2 linked regions of the Homo sapiens genome follow. The protein of the gene in region 2 purifies or fractionates together with the protein of the main gene of each other region. This does not show direct contact. Each region holds a gene or a part of one and is shown on either strand. Other genes may lie near its edges. The genes, in order: NCALD and SSX1.

Region 1 (3,816 bases), on a different chromosome or scaffold from region 2:
ATATGGTGACTGGATTCTAAGGGAAAATGTCAAGAAGAAAAAGAATAGCAAGAGAGAAAAAAATTGTATTCTTTTTATGATCTATCCTTGGAAGTCACCTAGCATTATTTCCACTGTACTCTATCAGTTGGACCAATCATAAGCCCATTTAGGTTCAAAGGGAGGGGCAATAGACTTCACCTCCTGATGGAGAGGAGCAAGATTCTAGAAGAACATATGGTAATGCAGTGGCTCATGCCTGTAATCTCAGCCCTTTGGGAAGCCAAGGTGGGAGGATCTCTTGAGGACAGGAGTTCAAGACCAGCCTGGGCAACATAGTGAGACCCCAAGTCTATAAAAATAAAAACAAAAATTTAGCTGGGCATGGTGGCATACGCCTATAGTCCTGGCTACTCAAGCAGCTGAGGTGGGATGATTGCTTGAGCCCAGGTTTGAGGTTACAGTGAGCTATGATTACACCACTGCACTTCAGCCTGGGCAACAGAGTGAGAACCCATCTCTAAAAAAAAATTTTTTTAATGTGGTAATGGATTCAATTGTAAGGCTATTTTTGAATACAATCTGCCACAACATATAACATTAATTCTGGGGAAAATACAATATATAATAGTAAGTCCTCACAACATCATTGACAACAAAACCAATTATTTTTTCTCATTAACATTACAACAAAACGATGTTGAATGAAATGACGGTATTTGAGGCTCTGCTGTATATTCCAAGTTGAAAGGCAATATAGTATAGTGAATAAAGAGCCAGGACTCTGAAGCCAAATGCCTAGAGCTCTATTGTATACTTGTGTGACACTCAGCAATTTGTTTAAGCTCTCTGTGCCTCAATTTCCTCATTTATAAAACTAGAATGTTGTTAAAAAATAGTTACTTTGAAAAGAACTTTGAAGACTATCCAGCTTCCTAAGTGTTAGCTATTATTATAATACTCTTCCAATTCTGACGGATTCTTCCTGCCTCCTCGGGGGATGGTGGTGGCAGCACTACCAGAAGTAGAAGATTAATAACAGCAGTTCACATTATTGAGTACCTAATACCTGTCAGTTTCTATGCCAAGTAAATTGACTCAAAAATCCAAGAGGGATGCCCTAATATTATTCACATAAGAAAACTCTGATTTAGGTAACTTGCTCAGAGTATCACTAGCAAGTGGTAGAAACAGGCCCCTGATCAGTTTAACTAGATAGAAGGAGCCTGAGTCCCTGGAGGACTGTGTGGAGCAGAGCCCTTCGCCCAATCCTGATTTCTGGGTGAGTGAAAAATGAACAGTGTTGGATTATGCCATTAAGATTGGGGGCTATTTATTACAGCAGTGACCCTGTCCTGACTGGGTTAGTACAGGGAAGACGGGAGAGATATTTTTGGAAATATCACTAATTTAAAGACTCCTTTCATAAAATACAATGGTTTTCATTATTTGTATGAAACAGGGTATTTGCATAAAAGAAAATACTCTCTAGGTCGGTCCCTACCAGTCTCATTTGTCTTCTGAACTAGAGGACAAATAGCCTCTGGCCAACTGGGAATAGGACTGAGCATACCGACCTGGAATCCCTGACACTGATGGGAACAGATTGCTCACAAATGAGGCCGGCTGTTCACCAGCTGCAGAATGTCTCTTCTGGGGTTTCACTCTGGTGTAAAACCTAATGGTTCCCAGGTTGTTTGTCTGTTTTGTTTTGATGTTCTGTTTTGTACTGTTTCCTTTTAGAATTCTCTTTTGGACTGCAGTGGCCAGTGTGGCTGTGGGAAAGAGAACCCCAGTTAATAGTACATATAGGTCTCTGGGCAAGTTCTCTACATAGTTAGACTGCATATTCCATGATGGAAGGGACCTGCCCTGTCTTGTACCTTATAGCAACCCTGGGGTCTGGCTCAATGCCTGACACGTAGTATGTGCTCAAAATTTGCTGAATGCATGAAAGACTGAATGTTTGAATAAAAGCTCAAGCAAACAAAAGCCAGGGTCCATAAAGGCCCTTGGGTTCTCTATGCCAGCAGCATATCTCACTTGAGGATCCCATCAGGGGAGGACCTCACATGCCTACTATAATACTGTGAATGCAGTAGTCCGTTAATAAATGTTCGCCAATTGAGTGACTGTGCTGCACATGATCCATGATAAGATGTGGGAAGGTATAGGACGGGGAAACTTTTGTGAGATGCTATTTTTGATCTCCAACGATATTGTAAATATGGTCGTCACAAACCTGATCATGGTTTGAGTTATATGAATCATATCAAAGTCTGTGGGAGTCAGCAGAGCAGATAGCCAAAGAACACAACAGTTTTCTTGACATTTACCTCTAATAGATAGGGCTTAAATTCATTAAAGCAAACAAAATCCAAAATCATCTTTTAAAAAAATTCATCCTTGCATAAAAGCAATGTGCAGCCTTTGGTCTTCCTGCAGTCACTGGGAGAGATTCAGAAAATGTGAACAATCCTCCCATGAAGACAGGCAACAGCTGGAATGTCTTTCAGGCTAGAGATTTATTTCCTACAAATCAAATATAAAACTGCATTGTGACCTGAGAATATTCTGGTTTACATTAATGTAAACTAAATTTTAAAGGGATGCCGTGTCTTTATTTAAAGGCACTTATGAAAATACATGCAAAAAACCCCCTAAAGTTCACTACTGAGATAAAAAGGGCAGACTGTTTTTAGTTTGGCTCCAGTGAATTTCAATATTTATCATATAATTTTTATATCAAAATCTTAGTGAACATTAACTTTTATGGTATCACTTCTGAAAACAATAAAAAATACTACATTTTGGAATGCTATTTCTAGTTAGATTTCCATCATGAAGCACCAGTTAAATAAATGTGGATTTTATGAAAAATAATGGCACATTCCTTTTTGAAAAGTTTCAAACACCTGGCTTGAGAAGCAAACAGTACAGCCTGGAGTCAGAGATTTTAAACTTTTTCCAAGTTTCTTTATCAAGTTGCTAGAGACTCAAAGCTCCCAAGGCAAGTGTTCTTTTCTAATCCAAAGAATAAGAAACGTTTGAGAACATCTCTTTCGTAATTCCTTTGAGAACACACGAAGACAAATTGCTAAGCTTCCATTTCAAATGCGAGGGATTTGGATTGAATTTAAACAACAGCTTGTGCAAAATGTCATAGCTCCCATTCTCTTACGCGGAGACAGTGGGTGTTGATGTCATAGAAAGGATGACTTTGGACATTCTGAATATAGGGCTGTGACGGCAGCTGACCAACTGCAAAGTTACGCTGTTGGTTTGGAGAGGAATATCAGGCACTATTTTCTGCACATTTAAAGAAACATGTTGAATGAGACAACTACTTACATAAGTCACACTAAACAATACTATTAATACCCCCTGTATTGGTCTTAAATATCCAATAAGCCAAATAAGGTTCTGCATTCAGATACTTGGGAAGTGTCTCCACTTCCAGCTTAATTTCAAACATGCCTCATCCTAGAGACCTCTGTCAGATAAACCTTTAGGGCTCTCTCTTGAGTATCTGGAATTAACATGACAATTGATCAATTCACACGTGTATGTGCTTTACATTAAGCTGGAAAGCCACATGCATTCTTTAATGCTTGCTTCAAATGCTATGAGCACATGAACTACCTTCTGTGGCCCATGGTTTTAACTCGCATAACTTGTACTAACACTATGAGTTTTCCTCTTAACCCCTGTCTAACCAGGTAAGGGTTTCCCAATCCAGGGGACATAAGACTGTTGTTAATGGATCTCAAGGAGGAAAATAAAAGAAAGTTACAATTTGGTAGCTATGTGAACATATTATTCCTTTTCATGCAGAAT
Region 2 (4,512 bases):
GTTCGAGGCTGCATTGAGCTATGATTGCACTACTACACTCTAGCCTAGGTGACAGAGTGAGACTCTGACTCAAAAAAAAAAAAAAAAAAAAAAAAGGGAGAGAGAGAGAAAGAGACAAGCTGAGAGGAGGAAGGTAGGGTGGGAGGTGTGCTGCAATGCCACAGAGACAGCTGGGCTGATCAGAACAGACGCCTAAGGGAGAGAAAAGTGCAAGGTCCAGGTACAAGCTCCACTATGGCCAGTCCCTGCCCTCAGCTCTGACAGGATACAGAAGAGCAGAACCCCCAGAAGCTGCCTTGCGATTTTTCCCTGCACAAAAGGAAAATGTGGGGTACTTTCTGCAGCCTAAGAAGTAGCCAAAGCAGGAAAAGGGATGCTCATGTATCCCCAGACTTGTCTGTTCCTAGAACTTTCTGTTACCTAGTTTAGTCATGGCCTTATAGTTTCTCTTCATATACACATAGCTGATTTTCTCCGAGTATTTCATCTTTTTCCACTCTTTCTTAGAGAAGTATGTGGCAATATCATCAAAGGCCTAAAAAAAATAAAATAAAATTTGTCAGTGACTCAGCTAGGTATGTCTGCCATTCAGCTGGAGCCGCTTCCTGTGTGCTGGATCTGGGAAGTGAGGATGATAATCCGTCCTGGTTGATGCCATGGCTAACTGAGAGACCATGGGGGACCTACCCTAGCTTCTCCCGTGGCACACATTAGGGCTTTAATGCTGCTGTCTGGCTCTCTTCCCACCTTCCAGAATGGACTGAGAGTTACCAAATGTAGAGCAAGGTCAGAGACTTGTCTCCAGGGATGCTAGGTGATGACAGAACACAGGTGGGAGGCTCCCAAGGGTCCAGATCTCCCCCGAGACCCTGCTCCTTGTCCCCAGTACCTCTGTCCTCCCCTCCTCAGAAACCTGGTCACCCTACTCTGTCCCCTGGACCACTGCTCTGCCCCCTCCAGGTCACGTCACCTTGCTTCTCTTCTCTGATGCTTTAGCATCATCCCTGGGTCTCTTTGCAAAGGTGTCGTCTCCGTTCATGGCACCAGGAGCAGTCTCACCTGCAAGAGAAACAGCCTGAGACTTTCTAGCTACAGGACCCTTGGTCCTATGGAGGGAGAAATCAGTGAAGCCCGGCCACACTCAGTCACCTGGAATTAGGGGTTGCATTTCTCCATTCGGGGCTTACCTGTCCATGGGTAAGGACATGGAGAGAAGTCAGATGAAAACAGGGAGCCTGGAGTCTCTGGGAGAAGTATTGCTTGGGGATGACAGGTTTCCTAGCAGCCTTGAGTCTTTGGGAGGGGGTTGGCTAGTGTTGTTAGTAGTTTCCCTGGGGCTAGGCTTACCCTGAAAGATGTACAGACCCTTGCTGGGGAGGCAGGGACGTGACTGTGTAATTTTATTGAATGGGGGCGTTCTGACACCCCCACTCAATAAATAAAGGGAGGGAAGTGAGTCCCAGACATAACGTGGTCTTTCTGGTGATGGATCTGATCAGGCAGAGGGATGGGGGGGTTCTGTTCTGTTGAAGAGAAATGACCTTCACTAATATGAACAGATTTAGAAGCTATTACTGGGTTATTTGTAAATTATTAGAAGGAAGAGAGCTAGAATCTCTGAGATTACAAGAGCCTGCCATCACTTAGAGAAAATGTGGGGTGTTTCAATTTGCAGCAATCGGCCAGGCGCAGTGGCTCATGCCTGTAATCCCAGCATTTTGGGAGGCCGAGGCGTGCAGATCTCTTGAGCCCAGGAGGTTGAGACCAGCCTGGGAAACATAGCAAACCCCTCATCTCTACAAAAAAAAAAAAAAAAAAAAAAAAACAACCACACAAAAAATTAGCTGGGGGCGGTGGCACAGGCCTATAACATCTCAGCTCTTTGGCCAAGGGGGGGCGGATCGCTTGAGCCCACGAGGTTGATACCAGCCTAGCCAACCTAGAAAAACCCTCTACTAAAAAAAATAAAATAAAATAAAAAGTATTAGTGGGGGCGGGGTGGTGCTCGCCTGTAGTTCCGAGGCCGAGGCAAGAGGATCTCTTGAGCCCAGGAGGTTGAGGCCAGCCTGGCCAACATAGCAAAACCCCATTTCTACTACTAATAATAACAACAAAAATAATAACATCAGCGAGGTGGTTCTTGCCTGTAGTTCCGAGGCCGAGGTGGGAGGATCACTTGAGCCGAGGAGGTCAAGCCCAGTTCGGCCAACATAAGGAAACCCTGTCTCTACTAAAAAGAACAACAACAACAAAACTAGCAGGGGCGGAATGGCACACATCTGTAGTCCTGAGGCCAAGGTGTGAGGATCGCTTGAGCCCAGGAGGTTGAGGCCAGCCTGGCCAACATAGTGAAACCTGGTTTCTACTAAAAAAAAAAAAAAAAAAAGCATGGGCAGGATGGTGCACTTCTGTAGTCCCAGGGCCGAGGCGGAAGGATTGCTTAAGCCCAGGCGGCAGAGGCCAGCCTGGCCAACATAGCAAAACCGTCTGTACTAAAAAAATAAAAAATAAAAAAAATTAGTGAGGGTGGGGTGGTTCGTGCCTGTAGTCCCGAGGCCAAGGCGGGAGGATTGCTTGAGCCCAGGCGGTTGAGGCCAGCCTGGTCAACATAACAAATCCCCGTCTCTACTAAAAAAAAAAAAAAAAAAACAGGGGTGGGATAATACAGGCCTGTAGACCCAAGGCCGAGGCGGGAGGATCCTCCATGATGATCGTCCTGAAAGGCATTAGTTGTCTTTCAGTCCTCAAGATTTTCGGAACCCCAAGCACTTGACGGCCCTACAGAGGCTTCCTCCTTTTCTATCTGCCCCGATTAGCCCATCTAGGGTGTCCCTTAAAGAGAACCTACTTCAGAGACAAAGCAGTGGTTGCGAGGTCGGCAGCAGTGGTGGCGAGTTGGCAGCAGTTGGTGACAAAGTGTGGCTGGAGGAGGAGAAAATATTCTGCAATGTCATTGCTCCAGGATGATGGACCAATCAGGGCAGTTAGTGAACTCCATCTGGCCAATCAGAAGTCAGAACAGTAGGCGGGACAAGCCAAGCTGATGTGGGGTCTATCAGTCTAGGCTCTAGGGACAGAACCTTCTCAAAATGGAGGCAGAAACTCTGACTTTCCCGCCTAAAGCATCCCCTGGGATTGGCTACTCCAAGTTCAGAGTACGCATGCTCTGATTTTCTCTTTGGAGTCTTCCCAAATCAGAGTACGCATGCGCTGATTTTCTCTTTTCATTTTTCCTATCCCTCCCCACCTCCTCGGTGGTGCATTGTTATCCAGTTTTAATAAGGAGTGTATATGAAGCAGGTCATCATCTCAAATCCTTCCTGTCAGTTTCTATCTTTTTCAGGTATGGGATTTTTTCCTAGGAACTCTGTAGTGACGTAAGAAATTTGGGCCGGTGCGGCGGCTCACGGTTGTAATCCCAGCACTTAGGGAGGCCACAGCTGGAGGATCACTTGAACCTGGGAGGCAGAGGTTGCAGTGAGCCATGATCATGCCACTGCACCCCACCCTGGGCAACAGAGCAATACCCTGTCTCTTTTCTCTACAAAAAAAATAAATAAAATTAGCGAGGTGGGGTGGTGTGCCTGTAGTCCGTTACTCAGGAGGCTGAGGTAGGAGGATAGCTTGAGCCCAGGAGTACGAGGTTGCAGTGAGCCATGATCTGGCTACTCCTGCCTACCTGGGCCACAGAGCGAGATCTTGTCTTTAAAAAGAGAGAGAGAGAGAAAGAGAAAGAAAGAAAAATTTCAATGAGCCAGTCCCAGTGGCTCATGCCTGTAATCCCAACACTTTGAGAGGCTGAGGCAGGAGGTGGAAGGATCACTTGAGGCCAGGAGTTCCAGAACAATCTGGGATACATAGTGAGACCCCCATCTCTATAAAAAATTTTTAAAAAAGAAATTTAAACAAAAAAAAACACTTCTACACTTCCATATATGTTTTTTTCTAAAAGACCAAAGAAGCAGAAATATATTTTACCCATTGATATTAATAATATTTATAATAATAGTATTAAAAAGAGTATGTAATTAGGGCCCACTGTGTTCATCAGGGAGCTCATAAGTCAATTTGTCTAAGAAGTTTCCCCTACCCCCATCCCTAGTACCTCCAACAAGTCCCCATTCCTCTCTGGGCTTTCCACCTACAGCCCTGATCTCTCTAAGATCCTCCCAGGATTACAGCAAGCTCTCTTAGGGCAGGAACAGAGCAATGGCCCTTGAGCCCAGCACAAAGCCTTTTATGTGCATCTTCCCATTAATTTTCACAACCTTCTCTGGAGTTAAATACTATTATCATCCCCAGTATGCAGATGTTGAGACTGAGGCTCAAGAGAATTAAGCAGTCTGCTCAAAGTCACATAGTCAGTGGGTGACAGAGCTGGGATTCACCCCCAAGATAGAATTGAGTCCAAAGTCTGTGCTTTTATTTATGTATTTATTTATTTTTAATTAAAATAATTTTTTTTTAGAGATGGGGTCTTGCTATGTTGTCCCTGCTGATCTGGAAGGAACT

The links.
Region 1: the proteins of SSX1 (region 2) and NCALD purify together in Homo sapiens (affinity purification with mass spectrometry; one large-scale study listed by BioGRID and IntAct). This does not show direct contact.

The regions. Positions count from the first base shown.
Region 1 is NC_000008.11:101,784,299-101,788,114, forward strand, and holds part of NCALD (neurocalcin-delta), read right to left. Parts: intron 1,755-3,816; exon of another isoform or gene 1,557-1,754; intron 1-1,556. UniProt on the Homo sapiens protein: May be involved in the calcium-dependent regulation of rhodopsin phosphorylation. Binds three calcium ions.
Region 2 is NC_000023.11:48,253,769-48,258,280, reverse strand, and holds the start of SSX1 (protein SSX1), read right to left. Parts: upstream 2,890-4,512; 5' UTR 2,849-2,889; intron 2,231-2,848; exon of another isoform or gene 2,145-2,230; intron 1,060-2,144; 5' UTR 1,040-1,059; coding exon 971-1,039; intron 536-970; coding exon 421-535; intron 1-420. UniProt on the Homo sapiens protein: Could act as a modulator of transcription. Plays a role in spermatogenesis.